Regions from separate parts of the Homo sapiens genome. Here region 2 is linked to region 1. The links come from fine-mapping of genetic effects on plasma protein levels. A gene starts in region 1. The other region holds a variant in brackets. All regions are shown on one strand. Distances are from middle to middle. Region 1 holds the start of GFRA2 (GDNF family receptor alpha 2). Region 2 overlaps GFRA2 (GDNF family receptor alpha 2).

Region 1 (9,361 bases):
TTGGGCAGTTGAATCACTTCTCTTGCCTCTCCTCTCTCACTTGAAAATGAGGCTATTAATAGTACCTAATAATAGCCATCGAGTTATTATAGGAATTTGAAGGAGTATTAACTTGTATCTAGCCATAAATTTGGCTACTTTAATTATTATTTTTCCAAGGACAAAGGCTGAGCCGCTAGGCTGGTCACTTTGTCTTGGCCTGGCGACTCTCCCTGTGTTCCAGCATCATGCCAATTCATCCTTACACTGCCTCTGACAACCCTCTCCCTCTGTCCACGCCCACTGCCACTCCCTGTTGGACCCTCATTACCTCTGCCTGGGACTGTTACAATCACCTCCTAATTGGCCCCTGGTCTCCATCCCTCACACAGTCATCAGATCAATCTTCCTAAAACATTATTCTCATCATGTCAGTTGCCTGCTCAAAAACCTTCAGCGGCTCCTGGTGCATGAATCTGAAGACTGCAAGGCTTGGTTCTTCTCCACTTGAGCACCCCAATTGGACCCTCTAGTTCTTCCCCAACCTGTGCACTTGGCTCCTCCCACCCACTGGATTGTTCCTTTCCTGAGAACTTTCTCTTTTTTTTTTGAGGCAGGGTCTCGCTCTGTTGCGCAGGCTGGAGTGCAGTGGTGCCATCTCGACTCACCGCAACCTCTCCCTCCCAGGTTCACGTGGTTCTCCTGCCTCAGGCACTCGAGTAGCTGGGACTACAGGTGTGCGCCACCGCACCTGGATATGTTTTTTGTATTTTTTGCAGAAACGGGGTTTCACCATGTTGGTCAGGCTGGTCTGGAACTCCCGACCTCAGGTGATCTGCCCGCCTCTGCCTCCCAGAGTGCTGGGATTATAGGCATGAGCCACCACACCCAGCCTCCTGAGAACTTTCTAATCACTGTGCTCTTGCCTCTGCTGTTTGCTCACCTGGAGTGTCCTCCTCTGTGCTCAGCCAAATTCTACCCATCCTTCCAGCTCCAGCTTGAATCCTACCCCTAGCAAGTCCTCTCTGATTGCACTCCTGAAATCCAGTGGTACCAACTCTTCCTTTCTCCCACTGTGCCTTTGTTTTTTTCAGTATCTTCTCATAGCTACACGCTTGACTCTATAAATGCTTTCAGGGGAGGGGCAGTCTTGCTGTATTCCCCACAGCCGTTGGCCCTGCTGGGGCCAGAGAAGTCGTTCAATAAGTCTGTGCTGATGGATTGATTGTGGGGTGCCCTGGATCAGGCTCTGTCCCATGGCAGAGGACACTTCCACCTTGCCAGTTCTGTGGCTCCTGACAGTATTAGCTGGATGTGAGGCACCTTCTTTTCACTCCTGGTCGATTTTTATCTCTGGGGTCAGGGAACCCTCAGCCTTCTTCCCTTCACAAAGGAATAAGATTGTGGTCAGTGAGCAGTGTGGCCCAGGCCTAGGTGCGCATGTGTGCGTGTGTTGGGGTGGGGCTGCAACGCCCTCCCCTCCACTGGTCCTTCTTCCCTCTCCTGCTATCCAGAGAACCCACTCCATAAGCAGAGAGGACTAGAGAGATAAGAGAAAGGGAAGGAATGGAAGGATTCGGTGTTGCCTTTCCCTCCCCATGCAGATTTGGACTCTAGGATCTGTGATGGGGAGGGGCTGTGGGCAGGAGGCTCAGCTGCTGGTGAACTCAGGAGCACTGGAATGAGCCAGGAAGGCTGTAAAAGGACTCAGGCACTACGGAATGTGTGGAAGTCTGTTGGTGAGCCTAGGGCTTGCCTCCTACCTGCTAGAGACTTCACATTTTCCTATGACTACCTCTTACGACAGCTGCTTAATAGTCTCTGTTGCCCTTGAACCCCTGTAGCTTTTTGTTTCTGCTTCTCATTTGCCCCTTAGGTTTTATTGCCTTGTCATAGGTCCCTAATTCTTCTTCTAGAACCCAGAGCAAAGCAGTAAACAACTTTATATGGGCCAGGCATTGTACTAGCCGCTTTGTGTAGTATCTTATGTAATTTCTACAACGTTGGTTTATCTTTTTTAATCCCCATTTTATAGATGAGATGACTGAGGTTCAGAAGTCCTCTTATCTATAAGGTGTTATAGTACATGTTCAACTGTGTTTCCTCTGTAGATCCCGGCACAAGGCAGGGGGTCTTCCTCATGGCAGATGCTCAGGAAATAAGGGATGATGCCATTTTTAAGAGCAGTTTGGGTTGAGTGTTGGGGTGGGCAGAGGGTGGGGTGTCATGGGATACGTCTGTATAGGCAGTAGGTAAGAGAGGGTCCAAGGTCAGAGTGCCCTGCAGTCACACAAGCTGAATGCTGGTGGTGACTGATTGGTGTTCTCTACTGTTCTTGGGATGGCTGGGTGGTCTTGGGTCGCAGAAGGGCCACTTACCTCCTGCTACCGGAATCCTCTTTCCTACTCCCGTGGGAGCTCAGTGAGAACCATCCCCAGGGCTTCATTGCTGCTTTCTCAGCCCCATTTTCTGGATAGGTGGGAGGGGAGAACTACATATATGATTCAGAGAATTTCTCTCATTATGCTCAAATGAAGTTAAAAGAAAGTGAAATTCTTTTTTGTGGGGAAGGGGAGAGGGATATGCTGAGCAGAAATTCTGGAGTTTGGAGCAGGGTCCTTGGAAGGGGGAAGGCCTGCGTGAGATTCCGAAATGGGTGGTGGTGGGGAGTATTTGGACAACCAGAAGACCCTGGAAGTCGAGGAGATGAGAGGGGGGACATTCATTTAGGCCAGGCTCCCAGCCTCGGGCCTCCAGGCCAAGCCTGCCTGGCAGTGTAATTCCTGTCAAGTTTTATCTTTTAACCTACACTTATCCAAAGCCGGTTCCTTATGCTCCCCAATTTTTGGAAAAAAAGCCAAGAGACCTTGTCAGATGCGAAGTCACTTCCTAGAACATGAGAGGCTTGGAGGAATGACAGGGAGGGCAGGCCTGAAGGGGGCTTTCCCCAACTCCAATCCCTAAGCCCTCTGTCCCAGACTCGTCACTACCCAGCTAGGGCCTAGGCTCGAAGCAGGCACAACTGGATGGCTGGGGGAGAAGATGGAGGGAGGAAGGTCGATGCCCCAGGACGGACCACAGGAAAGAGGCGTTCACAGGAGACTCGCTCTCTGTGCTTCCAAGGCCGGGAGCAGCCGCCTTCCCGCCTAAATCCTCAAGATGGAAGTTGCTCCCTCTAGCTTTCCCAATAGCTAAGGCTGCTGGTTTTGTTAGTGACCCCTCCCTTCTCGTCCAAGTCGATTTCTAGCATTTACTGGATTCCAGAGTCTTGTTATTTAAGAATGCATCTTAAACGGTACTATCAAATTCATGTTACGTGCAGCCCAGATTGTTTTGGGCAGCACGAAAAGTTTCTGAGGCGCTGCGTGTACCCCACCCCAGGACACCGTGTGTGCGCGCCGAGCTGAGTGCGAGGAACGTGGCGCGAGGGCCGGGGGATGCCGGGCTGCGTGGGTGTGAGCCCTCGCGCGACCGCGACCCCGCGCCTCTCCCGCTCTCGCCGGAACGTGACCGCAGCCGCACCTCTCCTCCAGCCCTTTCCCAGCCAGACGCTTCCTTTTAGGTCCTTCTGGGCGTTTATTGTAAATTCTGCGACTAAAACACGCCGGTGAGCCCGGCCCACCGACAGATGGATCAATCGCCCCCTTCCCGGCTAGGGGAGGAGGAACCCCCCAACCCCGGAGCCTAGGGAGCCGGGAGCTGCCTCGGGACGAGCTCCTCGGAGCCCAGCCGGCTGCGGAGCCCCGGCCCGGGTCGGTCTCGGGGCCCTCCTGCCGGGGTGGGGTGCGAGCCCCTGCCCGATTCCTCTGGGGCGGTTCAGGCAGGTTTGCCGGCCTCCGAGGAGGTGGTCAGGGCGCCCTGGCCCAGCAGGCTTCTTCCCGAGCCGGGGGGAGGGGAGACCGGCTGGGGAAGGGGCATCTCGAAGGGGTGGAGGCCGGGGCGGGCGGGAGGCAAGCGCGCCGCGGGCGTGAGGGCAAAGTTCCCGAGGTCCGCGCGGAGAGCACACGTGTATGTGCGCGCGGGGCTAGGCCGGGGCCGGCAGGATGCGTTGGGTTCGGGGGCGCGCGGGGCCGGCGCCGAAGGGGATAATTCCTTTCCCTGGCACCATCGGGGAGACGCTTTGTCGGCCTCGGCTCCTGGGCGCAGGGACGCCTTAGCCCACGGAGGGTGGAGCCCCCCTCAGACCCGGGCCACCGGCTGGGGTTTTTCTAACGCCCTGCCCCCCGAGCCCCCGGATGGCTCGGGCCCCACGGACTCCGCGCCCTCCAGCCTCAGCTCAGCTCCCCAGGCTTCCCAGACCCAGCGGCGCAGGGGGCGGGGGCAGGGGCAGTGGGGGTTGGAGGGCGCAGCCGGTCCCCAGGGTGGGGAGAGCTGCGGGGGGAGGAGGAGGAGGGTGCCGACGCTTGAGTGGGTTCGAGCCCGAGCCGTAGCCGGGGGAGCCAGTCAGTTTCCGGCCAAGGCAGCAGGTCAGTCCCAGGAAGGGCGGGCGATTGAGCCGAGGGAGCCGGCGGCTGGGCTCTCCTCTCGGCCCGCGATCCCCGGCGCCGCCGCCGCCGCCACCGCCACCGCCACCGCCTTCGCCTTGTCGCCGCCGCCGCTGCAGAGCATCGTAGCTCCGCCGCGCTCCCGCGCCCCGCGCCCCGCGCCGCCAGCCGCCTGGGAGCCCGAGCGCCGAGCCCGGGGCGGAGGAGAGGGGCGCTGGCGCGAGAGCCCGGGCGAGGGAGCCGCGAAGGGAGAAGGGGGCGGGCGGAGGGAGGAGCAGGGAGAGTGGGAGAAGGGGGAGGGAGAGAGGAGAGCGAGGGAGAGCTGGAGAGAGCGAGAGCAAAGAGCGAGCGAGGGAGAGGAGAGAGAGAGAGAGGAGAGAGAAAGACACACGCACGCAGAGACACACGGTCACTGGAATTCCATTAGAAAAAAGTGAGCCGAGCAAGGGTTAGCGGGAGAAGATTTTTTTGAATCTTGTCTTCGTCTTGGTGCGAAAGAAGCGACTCCAGTCTCTCGTCCTCGAAGCTCCGACTGGATTGTTCTTGGGCGCTGACACCCGTCTGTGGATTTCTTTTCTATTTGCATTTTATTCCGACCCCCTCCCTCGCCGCTTCCTTCCAGCCCTTCACTCGCAAATCGCCTCTCTCCCCACCTCCCCAGGCCCCTCCTGGGAAGCGCAGGGGAATTGGACCCGCGGGGACTCACGCCTTCCCGGACGATTGGAGGGGAGGGCTGACCCCAGGACTGGGCTGTTGGCTTAGAAAGCCGATACACAGATACGCGTATATTTGATTGTAGCGGGCAAGGGGGGCGTCGAGAGGCAGCAGCCCATCGCCCGCCTCTCACCCCACCCCCTCCAGCCAGAGGCGAGAATCGCAGGACTCGGGATCTTCATCGGGTGGACTAGCTGGGATCTCCGCATTGGATTTGGGGCTGATTACCACTGCTTGCCTATTATTATTGTTGTTGTTACTACTATTATTTTTTTTTACCCAAGGGAGAAAGACAAAAAAACGGTGGGATTTATTTAACATGATCTTGGCAAACGTCTTCTGCCTCTTCTTCTTTCTAGGTGAGTACCTGCGGGCGGCGAGCTCGAGGGGGAGGCGAGAAGCCGGGGAGGCGGGGGGCGAGCGGAGCGCCGGTGGGGGGCTGGCGGGAGGTCGGCGGGGAGAGCGCGCCGCGGAGCTAGCCGGGCCCGGTGCTGGCGAACCGAGCGGGGCCGGGCGGCAGGGACGCGGACGAGGGACCGGAGCCGCGGCTGGCTGGCGACGCAGGGGGATCGGGAGGGAGACTCAACATCCGAACCAGCCCCGCAGACACTGTGCACGCACACACACACCCGCGCTCGCTCACACGCCAGTATAGCGCGCATCTCCCCCGAAATAATGGGTTCGAATTGCGGCAACTTAAGAAAAAAAAATATCCAACTCTTGATCTGCAAGAAGGGAGGGAGAGAGAGGCTCCTAGGCGGGGAGAGAACAGTCCTGCGGGGTCCGCCTTTCCTGGTCTGCTCCCCGAGTCGGTCGTGGTGGAGGGCGCGGGTTTCTCCGGCGGCTCCCGCTTGGACATCGCGCGGGGAGCGCTGGCAGTCACTCCCCACCTGCCAGCCGCGCCTGGCAAACGGAGCCCGCGTCCCCACGCCCTGAGCCCCTAACCGGCGGCTCCACTCCCCGGAACACTTTTCAAGTTTCTCCCCACCGAGCCCCGAGCCAGATGGGTGGGCGGGAGCGGAGGGTTGTGAGCAGCCGTTCCCGGCCTTCCCTCCTCCACCTCTGGGGGCCGCGGACCCCCGTGGCTGGTGGGAAGAGGCGGGAGGGAGGCCAAAGTTTGCTTTCTCCGTTGAAGAGGGTGGGAGGCGAGGGAGGAAAAACGGGTCTGAACAAAGACCACTGCTCCTTCTGCAAACCCCCCCCACTGCCCCCCCCGCCGCCTCCAAGACAGGGAGGAGAGGCTGCCTGGCGCCACTGAGCCCCACGCAGTTTCTTTTCCACACAGAATTCCCAGCTCCTCTCTCCCTTTAAAGCTAGGTGAAATCGCAGCTGCTTGGGAAATGGCAATCTCCGGAGGGAGGTGAGGAAAGGCGGTTGTTTGCAAGGCTGTGCACCACCGGGAGTCCCAGGCAGGGCTGCTGCCAGGGAGTAGACGCTCCCATAGAGGGAGCCGGGTAACTACTGTGTATGTGTGTGTGTGTGTGAGTGTGTTTGTAAGGAGCACACGTCTGCTTCAGTGAGGGTGTAGTTCTACCACCTTGGCTTGCTGTGTAGCCAGTGTTGAGCCAGGCTGCCCAGCGGGGTCATGATCTCACCCTCTCCCTCCTGCAGTAGGGGATCTGGGAAGGCCACGAGTGGGGAGGTAGGAGCTGGTTACAGGAGGATGTGCGTGGTCTAAGAAGTGCTCGCCAGACTAGGATAGGGGACCGGAGTCATTGGGTGTCCACACAGGCTCTGGACTCTCTGCCTGTCCCCTCTGCTTCCCGCCAGGTGCGAGTCCCCAAGGGGGCAAGTCCCTGCTCTAGGGTGTGGCCTCAGAGGTCCTACCTCCCTCAGCCAGAGGCAGCTTCTCTCTGGGGTGGGAGGGGCTCCTCTAGGAAGCTGGAAGTTGCTCTGGGCCCGCTGTGATCCCGAAGCCCTTCCTGTCAACCCTGGCAAGTGGACTCTCATTCTGAAGGGGCTACTATAAAATCTGACCTTTTTCTCCCACTGCTAGCTTGAAAACCCAGCCTTCTGGGTCCAAGCATGATCAGGGCCAAGGTGAAAAAAAAATTGTATTTCAGGCAAAACAGCCAGATTGCCTACTGCTGAGCTGCATACCCCAGCATGGGCAGGGCTCCCAGGTGTGGGCACCATCTGTGGTCGGGGGCTGGAGAAGAGCAGTGTGGGCCCCTGGTCATTGCAGGCAGGCTTTCTCCAGCCGGGCAGGCTAAGGAGTCCACCTTTCTCCTTTTCAGAAGTGGCTGGGGTTCCTGCTCGTGGTGGGTGTGTATGTGTGTGCATGGGAGATGACCAGAGAGGCCCAACCCAATGTCTGCAACCCTGGAGGCTGAGTGTTGAGAGGCGGGGGTGAGAGCAGAAGAGCAGCAGGCTCAGCATCCCCTTGCTCCACAGCCCTTCAGTTTCCTTCCCTCGAGAAGTCCCCTTCTAAAGCTGGGCTGAGTGGAGTGACCACAGATACTGAAAGGCTTTGGGTTAGGCCAGTGGAAAGGAAGGGATGGGTTGGTGTTTAGGAAACTTCAGCCCTGGGGCCCTTTTCCTGGCAGGAAGCTGGTTGAAAATCCCACTGGGTGGGTGGGTGGAGGGTCGGGGGAGGTTTTTCTGGGGCTTGAGACTTGGTGGGCAATTTCAGCTGGGGGCAAAGGCCTTTGGTGTGCCCCTACTGAGATTCTGAGTGAGGTCTGGGCTGGATAACCCATGGTGGAGAGAGAGGCCTTTCTTGCCCAGTATCTTGACCTCCAGTGCTGACCCAGGGAGAGAAGGAGAAGGGGAAAGTGACTCGGGTGGGGGTGTTGGGCTGGCCAGAGGGGGCCACTTCCGACTGACTTTCTAGCACACATTCTAGCTCTGGTGGGATGTTGGATGCAGTAGGGCAATTGTAGCCCTGTGTCGCTTCTCCACCCCCCTCTACCCCTGTGTCTCTAGCAGCTACTCCCTGTGTCTTGATGGATCAAAGTTTTCTCCTAATTTAGGATTTGGAAACATCACCAGGACACCCCCTGCCCTTCACTCTCTTAGGATTCTTAGCTAAAGGCTGCAGGCTGCAGGGATTCCTTTCTCTGGCTGGGCTTGATTGGTTCTGGGGGTCATGGAATGAACTAGAAGAGTCAAGGATGGTTTGGTGAATGGATGCCCCGGCCCTTCGCAGAGTGTGTCTGTTGCCTGGCCACACGTGCCAGGTGGCAGGATGGGGGAAGCCCTCAGTTCTGGCACGGGAGCCTCCCTAAGATTGTGTAAGGATCATCCTGTGGGGCTCTAGGCCCAACTGTAGGACAAGCAAAAAAAGCGTCCTTATGCCCTGAATCCCCTGGGCTAATCTTCTGACCTTTAAGCACGCGGTGAATTCTGTGCCTACAGAAGGCTAAGGAAGCCAGGAAGTTCCATTTCCAGGCCCCCATGACAGTGCAGCCTTCAGTTCAGTCAAGGTGGGAGGGCATTAGCCTATGGGGAGGCGGGGTGGTTAAGTCAGTGGAGGGCCCAGGGTTATATTCTTCCAGAGGCTCCCACGGGCTGGCTGGGGGCCGCAGGTACAGGCGGGGCCGTGTCAACTCAGCTGCTCTTGGGGGGCCCGGCTGTACGCGGGTCCTGCTCAGGGAGGTAGGAATCTGCTGAAGCCGGGGAAGAAAGACGCTGCCTCAGCTTGTGTGGAGGACAGCTCTCCAGCCAGTGCCGGGCCTCAAACTCCGGTCTGATTTCTTCTCTGGTCTTGTCTCAGCCTGGCCACATCCATCAGCCTTCCTGTTCTGTGGCAGAGGTCTGGTCAGTGGGAGAAGGGCACGTCTTTTGCTCTGGGCCCCGAAGAAGCCTTCTGTACCCCAGGCCCATCCCTGCTGTTCTTCTCTGTTGTCCCCTAGGGATGGGTCTCCTGGCTGGTCCCACCGGGAGTGGATGGATTCCTGTTCTCTGGGGGCTCTCGGGAGCGAAGGCCCGCTGTGCAGCGCGCTGCCTTTAGGTGTCGCTGTCTCCCTGCGGTAGCGCTCCCCTGAGCAGGGCCTCCCGGGGGATGGCCTGAGAGTGGCTGTTCTGGGTAGGGATGGGGAATTCTGCGGTATTGAGGAGGGGACTTCTGGCCTAGGATTTTATTATGTTCTGAGGCGAGATGGAGTCGAGGAAGCCTCCCAAATTACTCTTTCGGTCCAGGAAAGGGCAGTCATGGCTCTGGGCCATGGTGCGGGCTTTTCCTG
Region 2 (9,540 bases), 96 kb after region 1:
TTTCTCTATTAGAGTATGAGCCCCTGGAGGGCAGGGAGGCACTGAATTTGAGACACTGGTGGTTTTGGCATCAGAGGTGGTCTCTCTTTCTCTCTGCCCCTCCCGCCACTAGGTGCCACCTTCAGGAAAGGTCAGCTGCTGGGCAACACTCCCACCCAAGGGCCCTGTTGCCCCTGGCAGAGACCACACCTTGGGGCAGATGTCCCTTGGGATGGCCCAGGGAGGTGTTTCACTGTCCCCTGATAATCAGCATCAGATGAGAGGGTACAGTGGTTGTCCTCAGCCCTCTTGCCTCCCCCTTTATTCTCTCCCCTGCCCTCTGTTGCCTCCTTCCTCTATTTCTTCCCTCTGTCTTCTGTTCCTCTGTCCCCTCCCCTCCTGCTATCTTTCTCCCTCAGCTTCCTCCCCTTACCATGCCCTCCCCTCCCCTTTCCGTTTGTCCCCTCTCCCTCTCCTCTGTCCCCTCCCCTATCCTCTGTCCCTTCCCCTCTCCCTCTGTCCCCTCCCCCTTCTCTCCCCTCCCCTCTCCTCTGTCCCTTCCCCTTTCCTCTGTCCCATCTACCCTCCTCGGTCCCCTTCCCTCTCCTCTGTCTCCTCCCCTCTCCTCTGTCCCTTCATCTCTCCCTCTGTCCCCTCTCTCTTCTCTCCCCTGCCCTCTCCTTTGTCCCTTCCCCTTTCCTCTGTCCCCTCCCCCTTCCTCTGTCCCCTTCCCTCTACTATGTCCCCTCTCCTCTCACTCTGTCCCCTCCCCCTCTTCCTCTTTCCTGTTTCCATTTCTCTGCTTCTCCCTTCACCTGGTTTCCTCTCTTCCTTCCACCCCTTTCTTCACTCTCCTCTTCTCTGTCATTTTTCCTGTGTAATACTTGCCAGTGTCCCCTCCACTCTATCCTATTTAAGAGGAACTTGTCAAGTTCTGCTCACTCCGAGGAGCAAAGTCCAGTTGCAGGCCCCCTTTGCTCTCTGGAGCGTCGGCCTTTAGATCCTCTCTCTCCACACCTGGCCAAGCTCCCAGGCCAGGGAAAATGCACTTGGTGTGTGCTGGTTGCTTTGCCAGCTGCTCTGCATGGGCTGACCTCGGGTGTAACCCTGCAGAGTGTCTAGGTCCGGGGCTCCCCTGAGAGTGGCACCCACAGCCACAGCACATTGTGCAGGCCCCACCCTGGGGCCCTTCTTGTCGGTTGTTTTCTCAAGCCTTATTTTGTTAAGCAGTAGACTATTATCCAAACAATTTTATGCGTACCTCCAATATACAAATAAGCTAAGACTCCAATATACAAAACAGCTAAGACTCCAATATACAAAACAAATAAAAATGGAGCTGTTATGGTGGATGGGGGTGAGGATCTTGAGTGCAGGGAGCTTCTGCCTCTGTGATTCCCCATGGGCTCCACTGGTTTAGTGAGGAAAGGGGAGGGGACAGAGGAGAGGGGAGAGGACAGAGGGAGAGGGAGAGGGGAGGGGAGAAAGAGGGAAAGGGGACAGAGGGAGAGGGGACAGAGGGAGAGGGGAGGGGACAGGAAAGGAGGAGGGGACAGAGGAGGGGGAGGGGAGAGAGGGGGGAGGGGACACAGGAGATGGGGAGGGGACAAAGGAGAGGGCTCCCAATGGTTTAGTGAGCTCTGTTGGGGGTAGGGATGTAGGGATAAGACATGGACTCCCAGAAAGGGCGGGGACTGGCCTGCCACACCTGAAACAATGAGAGTAGGAAGTGACGCTGGGTGTCCGTAGGTGTCAGGCCACAGGCACAGACTCCAACAAGCCATAGGATGTCACAAGTAGGGACTGAGGTGACTGAGCAAGGATTGGCCAAGGGACTCGGGAGGACAGATGCGAGGCCATTATGACAGCACAGCCTCTGAGGGGGTGGGCGTGTTCTTTTTCCCTGACACCCTTCCCCGTGGCCTCACAGTCTTAGCTGGAACAGCACCAAGTCCTGGGGAGTGGAGTCCAGGCCTTGGGTCTGGAAGAGTTGTCGAGCACGTGCCCTTCTGCAGAGGGCAACAGCTGGGGAGTTGGCTGGGCATCACCTTGGCACCTGGGGACACTCCTGGTTCCATTCTCGCTGTGCTAATCATCACCGTGGTCCTATCTCCACCATTGGCAGTGACTCTACTCTTGGCCAGCGTCTCCATGTGACAGCTGGGGTCTTGTTTAGCTGACCAGATGCCCTGGGTGGTAGATTGCCTGTGATGTCCAAGGGGTTATTGATACTTCTGGCCGAGGGCAGTGATTGCGGCATAATTTCTTGGGCTTCCCAGTTGCTTTTGGTGGCCAGAACTTCCCTGGAAGTGCCCTGGGAACAAGCCATTTGAATCCTGGATGGAAGCGCTGCATCCCCAGCTGGTTCCCATGGATCTCCATTACAGTGATGATAACAGAGGGCCGTTCATCATGTGCGCCCTCTGGCCCTGCATCCAGGTGGCCACACCAGGGTAGACAATCTTGGAATCATTACCAAGGCAGCCCTTCTCGTCCCTCACCTTGCCCACAGTGTTCCCAGGTGTGCACATCCGTGTAGGACAGAAATGGGCTGGTGCAGTTGCCAGATATCCACCTAATGGACCAGTGGCAGACATCACTAATCAATCATGCCTCTCTTCCCCTCAAGCCCAGATGAATGCTCATGATCTTTTTATATAGAGCCCTCCATCAGCCATGGCAAATTAACAGGAGTTGGCTCTTGGAGGCTGTTTATGATCTGTGACATTCATTCATTCATTCATGGATGCAGGCATCTAGTGAAACATTTGTTGAGTTGTTGTTATGAACCAGACACTGCTCAGTGTGAGGAAAAGAAGACATGGTCCCTGCCCAAGAGTTGCGCTGAGTATATGGACAGACATGCGAATGGCTGATGACTATATAATGCCGCTAGTTGGGAGCAGAGTTAGAACTCTGTTCTCCAGGAGCCAGAGGAGTCGGGTCCTAATTGCTGAGGGTGTCAGAGAAGGGCAGAAGCCTTTTGTGCTGGGTGGAATTGAGCTACCCTCTTCACCGTGTGCGCTGGCTGTGCTTAGCGGAGCCAACAGTGCATGGCGGGGCCTCATCTAAGTCTCTGGACAAAGCCCAGCCAGGAACAGCCTGGTGACTCGTCCTGACTGGCACCTTCTCTCTCGCAGGAGCAGGGGCTGAAGGCCAACAACTCCAAAGAGTTAAGCATGTGCTTCACAGAGGTGAGTTGGGGGCAGAGTGGGGATGGGTGCAGAAGGCTGGGCCGGTGGGGGGCGGCATTTCCCCGGCGAGCCTCAGATCCAGCGCCCTCAAATCTCATCGCATGGGCTGGGCCAGCTGAGCTTCTGGACCAGGGTGGGCACTTACTCTGCTGGGGTGGGGTGGGGGAGTGCGAAGGCTGCATCCAGGGCCCCTGGCTCTCTCCTTGGGGAGAGACAAATGGCTGCTCTGAGCAGAGGCCCTCCCATGCCTTCCTTACTCTCTTAAGACAGTTGTGTCGACCACCTGCTCGGCACTGTTGCTGTGATATTTAGGAGGCACAGAAGTGGAAACAGACACAGTTCTTCCCTTGAAGAAACCCCCACTATAGGAAATATATATATATATAAAAATAAATAAATATATATATAAATATATATATATCTCATATATATGACGTATATATAAATATATATATCTCATGTATATGACGTATATATATATATGACTTATAGACCCAAGACAGTAACTTAGATGAGAAGAAAAGGCAGTGTGAGACCTCACAGAAGAAAGAGAAACTCAGACAAAGATGTTCAGGGAGGGCTTCATGGAGGAGTGGGGATTGGAAGAAATTGAGAAACAGGGCGAATGTGGGCTCCCTTGTCTCCCCTCCCCTCCCCTTCCCTTCCTCTCTCCTTCCCCTCTCCTTCCTCTCTCCTCTCCTTCTTCTTCTCTCCTCCTTCTTCAGCTCTTTATACCATCTGCCTCCTCACTGGGACGCAGGTCCTCAGCCCTGATGCAGGGAGGAGTAGCCTGTTATCCTGGTGACCACTGCCCTCCTCTCCAAACCCCAGGGCTTGTGACCAGAAGGGACAGAGCATTCCCTTCTGCTCCTGCCTGGGCCAGCTCCGGGAGAGTCAGCGCTCCCTTCAGAGTGCAAAGGAGGGTCCCTGTGGGTGGAAGAGAGGACAGGGGCTTGAGGTGTCCAGTTCCTGAGTCCGTTTCTCTGCCGGGTCCCAGGCCTCCTGACTGTTTTCTTTGTTTTCATTCTCTTTGTTCCTGATTCTTCTCCTGCTGCGGACTCAGCTCACGACAAATATCATCCCAGGGAGTAACAAGGTGATCAAACCTAACTCAGGCCCCAGCAGAGCCAGACCGTCGGCTGCCTTGACCGTGCTGTCTGTCCTGATGCTGAAACTGGCCTTGTAGGCTGTGGGAACCGAGTCAGAA[T/G]ATTTTTGAAAGCTACGCAGACAAGAACAGCCGCCTGACGAAATGGAAACACACACAGACACACACACACCTTGCAAAAAAAAAATTGTTTTTCCCACCTTGTCGCTGAACCTGTCTCCTCCCAGGTTTCTTCTCTGGAGAAGTTTTTGTAAACCAAACAGACAAGCAGGCAGGCAGCCTGAGAGCTGGCCCAGGGGTCCCCTGGCAGGGGAAACTCTGGTGCCGGGGAGGGCACGAGGCTCTAGAAATGCCCTTCACTTTCTCCTGGTGTTTTTCTCTCTGGACCCTTCTGAAGCAGAGACCGGACAAGAGCCTGCAGCGGAAGGGACTCTGGGCTGTGCCTGAGGCTGGCTGGGGGCAGGACAACACAGCTGCTTCCCCAGGCTGCCCACTCTGGGGACCCGCTGGGGGCTGGCAGAGGGCATCGGTCAGCGGGGCAGCGGGGCTGGCCATGAGGGTCCACCTTCAGCCCTTTGGCTTCAAGGATGGAGATGGTTTTGCCCTCCCTCTCTGCCCTCGGGTGGGGCTGGTGGGTCTGCAGCTGGTGTGGGAACTTCCCCACGGATGGCGGTGGAGGGGGTTCGCACCGTGCTGGGCTCCCCCTGACTGTAGCACGGAGTGTTGGGGCTGGGGGCCAGCTCCAGGAGGGCTTGAGAGCTCAGCCTGCCTGGGAGAGCCCTTGTGGCGAGGCATTAAAACTTGGGCACCAGCTTCTTTCTCGGTGGCAGAAATTTTGAAGTCAGAGAGAAACGGTCCTTTGTTGGCTTCTTTGCTTTCTCGTGGGTCCTTTGGCAGGCCTCCCTTTGGGGAGAGGGAGGGGAGAGACCACAGCCGGGTGTGTGTCTGCAGCACCGTGGGCCCTCAAGCTTTCCTGCTGTCTTCTCCCTCCTCCTCCTTTCCCCTTTCTCTTTCCTCATTTCCTAGACGTACGTCAACTGTATGTACATACCGGGGCTCCTCTCCTAACATATATGTATATACACATCCATATACATATATTGTGTGGTTTCCCCTTTCTTTCCTTTTTTTAAGCAACAAAACTATGGAAATAATACCCCAACAGATGAGCGAAAATGTATTATTGTAAAGTTTATTTTTTTTAATACTGTTGTCTATAATGGGGAAAAAGGACATTGGCCCCGCAGTGCCCTGCCCCAGTCAGCCTGGCTGGGCTCTGGTGGGGGCTCCTGATCCGCATCCAAGCTTAACCAAGGCTCCAATAAACGTGCTAGGAAGCAAGCTGCCTCTGCCTCGGTCCCGTGGGGTTTTGCCCCCATTTTGTTCTTGGTCCAGTGTTACCTGCGTAAGTGGAGCTCCCAGTGGGCTGGGGAAATGTGTGTCCGTGTGTGTGCCTGTGTGCATGTGTGTGCATCCATGTGTCTCACCCATGTGTCCACATTGTGTGTAGATGGAGCTCTCTTAGGAGCTGGTTTGACACTGGGGGCGGGATCTGAGGGTCCACGCTGTGCTGAGCCTGGTGGGCTGTTCTGTTCCCTCTTTGCTCACTTCTCCAGTTGGCGCAAATGCCTGTGGCTCCCAGGCTGGAAGAGAATGCAGTGGACGTGGACGTGGTGGGGAGCCACAGCTTGGCATCACACGTTGGGAATGTTTTATTGTCAGGCTGTCTGGGTGGCCCTGTTAGTCTTACATAGAGCAAAGTGGTATGTCCCTCTGGGACTCCTGGCTTATTTGAGATGTGTGATTGTGAGTGCAGTGACCTGGCCTTTTGGGTCCCACCAGAGAAGAAGGACATGACTGTGCATGTTCTGGGGTCATGGTCTGAAAGCATAAGTATTTTTTGGGTCTCCCTCTATTCCTTCCTTTCCTGTTTCTCCATTTGCTACCCAGGCCCCACTTGGACACTAGGCCTGCCATAGTCTCCAAGAGAGATTCTCCCCAGAGAGGACCAGGAGAATGCCTGCTGGCCAAGTGTGTGTGTGTCCATGTATGTGAGCATGTGTACATGTGTGTGCGGTCGTGTGCAGGCTCGCACATGTTCACGTGCACGTGTGAATATATACCCATGGCAGGAGGGAGAATGGAAGACTGGTAGGCGAGAAGATGTTTCTACTGTCAGCCTGGCCTTCAGGGCTGCATGTGAGCCCATCCCATTTCAACTGGACAATAGGATGCAGTTTTCCCATCTCCCAATCGCAGGTCCCCTCAATGGCTTTTGCTTCTGGTTGTATATGTGTGAGCAGCATCCGTTCACAGCGTTTATCACTGTGGTGTATTGCCTTCCAGCCTCTGCATGGAAGGGGTACAGTGAGCCAGCCAGGTCTCTGTCCAGCCATTGCGGGTAGACGTGGTCATGGCATCCACTTAGGAATCCGTGTTCTTTGCAAACAGCAAAGACCATTTAACTTAAAAAGTACTTTACTGGAAGGCTATGGGAGAAGGTGGCTCACGGAATTTGTGGGAGGTGGGGGGACCAGGGGAGGCGAGGGCAGGGACTGGAGGGCATCTGAGGGGCTGGAAGGCAGGATGTACAGGGTCAGCATTCTGCTGCCAACCATTGCCCATCTGGCTGAACTGGGCCTTGTGCCTGCCCTCTGCCATACTTGAGTGTGAGAGAGAGGATATATATGTCATGTCTGGTATCCCTAATAGGAGGTAAGCCCTTAGGCTACATCATGGGGGAGAGAAAATTTCCCAAGAGGAAACTGAGGTGCCATTATGAAGGAGGAGTGGATACTAGCTAGCTTTACTCTGCCCTCAAATGTCTCCCTATCCAAGTATCACATGGCTGAAATTTTACCATTAGGTATTCATTCCTTTGGTTGAGATGATTCCTATTTGTGATTCTCTCAAAATATGCAAATCGAACTAGAAGAATAAATTGTTGCTATCTTAATGTTAGTTAATTTAATGGTGTGAATGAATTCTAGTAACATTAAGACATTTGAGTCTAGACATTGAAATTGGGGTTGAGGGACCAAAAACAGGAAGTGAATCATGGAAAGTTTGGTAGGGACCACCAGAGATAGATTTTTTTTTTTTTTTGAGAGAGTCACACTCTCACCCAGGTTGGAGTGCAGTGGTGCGATCTCGGCTCACTGCAGCCTCTGTCTCCTAGGTTCGAGCGATTCTCGTGCCTCAGCCTCCCAAGTAGCTGGGATTACAGGTGTGTGCCACTATGCTTGGCTAATTTTTTTATTTTTTTTTGTATTTTTAGTATAGAGACAAGGTTTCGCCACGTTGGCCCGGCTGGTCTCGAACTCCTGACCTCAAGTAATCTGCCTGCCTTGGCCTCCCAAAGTGCTGGGATTATAGGCGTGAGCCCCCAAGCTCAGCCACCAGAGACTGATTTCTAGATTTTCTTAGAGTTGCTGTGGGAGACTGCAGACACATGCAATCCAGGGCCCTGTGCCTTTACCCCCTAGTCAGCAAAGTGTATAAAATTAGCTTTTTTTTGCCACCAGCCCCCTGAGGATTCCTGATCAGGGGCATGCCTCTATCTGCAAGTCTGGCTCACTCCGTTTTCTAGGCTCTGATACCTTGTCAAGTGTGAAGTCATATAGGTGGCCAATTCAGAAGCTCAGGATTGAGTGAGCAGTGCCGCAGGTCCCACGTTGACCCACGGTGGTCCTCACAGCAGGGCGCCTACCTGGTATCAAGACCAAACACAGGGTCGTCACCTTAGTTCCTGGCACCCCAGGCCCTGCCTTTGCTATCGGCTTGGCACACAGGTTTCCCAGAACGGGGCTCAGCCCTGCATTTGCTGGTCCTGCCTTGACGGGGATGCTTAGGCTGAGGAGGTGCCCTGCTGTTTCCCACAGACCTTCCTGATGGTGGTCCTAGGCCTGCCAGGATGGACATCTTTGGCCAATCTGGACTTTCGCCCATGACTCGCCTGCTCACTGAGGAGCCCACCGGGTCTCTGGTTTAGCCTCCCAGTGTCGGCTGCCTGCTGGTTCCTGCCTCTGAGGGTCTCATAGCCCATCTGCTATGGCTTCATGCCAAAGGGGCTTGTGTGTGTGTGTGTGTGTGCGTGTGTGTGTGTGTGTGTGCGTGTGTGTGTGTGTGCGCACACACCCATGGCTTCACTTCTGCCAAAGGGGCTTTGTGTGAATGTGTTTGTGTGCATGCACCGATGGCTTCACTTCATGCTGAAGGGGCGTGTGTGTGTGTGTGTGTGTGTGTGTGTGTGCGTGTGCATCCATACATATGCACCTGTCTCTAGTTCCCAGCCACAGACTGTCGAATGCCTAAGATGAAGACTTTCCTTTACTCATGAGGATTGAAGCCCCAGTGTTCCCTGCCAGCTGGAGAAATTCTTTACCAGCATTTTCTGATCTGTGAAGTGAGTTGAAATTGGGCTGCCCCTCCCAAGGATGCTGAGGCTGGTCACTTACTGCATATTTTAAAAAATTTGTGTATTTATTTAAATATTTTTATTATTATTTTTTGAGACAGGGTCTCATTCTTTTGCCCAGGCTGGAGTGTGGTGGTGTGATCATAGCTCACTGCAACCTCAGGCTCCTGGGTTCAAGTGATCCTCTCACCCTAGACTCCTAAGTAGTTGGAACTACAGGTGTGTGCCACCACACCCTATTCATTTTATTATTTGGTAGAGATGGAATCCCACTATGTTGCCCAGGCTGATCCTAATTGTCTGGCCTCAAGGGATCCCCTGCTTCAGTCTCCCAAAGTCTGAAATTACAGGTGTGACCCACCCATGCTCCTGGCCCATACTGTGTTAATACAAGTAAACAGATTCATCGCCTGTTTGTTGCCCATTTTTTTAGAGTCTTAGTAGGGGTAGATAATCTTTTTTTTTTTTTTTTTTTTTTTTTTTTTGGCTGGAGTGCAGTGGTGCGATCTTGCCTCACTGCAACCTCTGCCTCCCAGGTTCAAGCGATTCTCCTGCCTCAGCCTCCCAAGTAGCTGGGATTACAGGCACCTGCCACCACACCCAGCTAATTTTTGTAAATTTTGTTTTTTTAGTAGAGATGGGGTTTCGGCATGTTGGCCAGGCTGGTCTTGAACTCCTGACCTCAGGTGATCCACCCACCTCTGCTCTCAAAGCGCTGGGATTACAGGCATGAGCCACCGTGACTGGCCCATTCATCTTTTAAAAATGGATTAAATTTTTTAGGAAAATCCAAAGTCATTTAGAAGCCAAACTGGTAAATAAGGTTGATGACATTCTCTGTGGTG

What was found. PIP is the chance, under the fine-mapping model, that this variant and not a neighbour inherited with it causes the effect. Protein levels are from the aptamer-based SomaScan assay of Sun 2018.
Region 2: its variant is fine-mapped to the plasma level of the GFRA2 protein (Sun 2018, PIP 0.95).

The regions. Positions count from the first base shown.
Region 1 is chr8:21,784,295-21,793,655 of GRCh38, reverse strand. GFRA2 (GDNF family receptor alpha 2) reads left to right here and starts at 4,781. Exons shown (of 9, transcript NM_001495.5): 1 at 4,781-5,536. The coding sequence starts at 5,497.
Region 2 is chr8:21,688,097-21,697,636 of GRCh38, reverse strand. It overlaps GFRA2 (GDNF family receptor alpha 2), which reads left to right. Exons shown (of 9, transcript NM_001495.5): 8 at 3,120-3,173; 9 at 4,237-7,239. The coding sequence ends at 4,359. Among named protein-coding and RNA genes, the nearest start is that of GFRA2, 96 kb to the left of the region's middle. RefSeq lists an enhancer at 4,318-4,818. The variant T/G (reference allele first, on the strand shown) is at 4,381.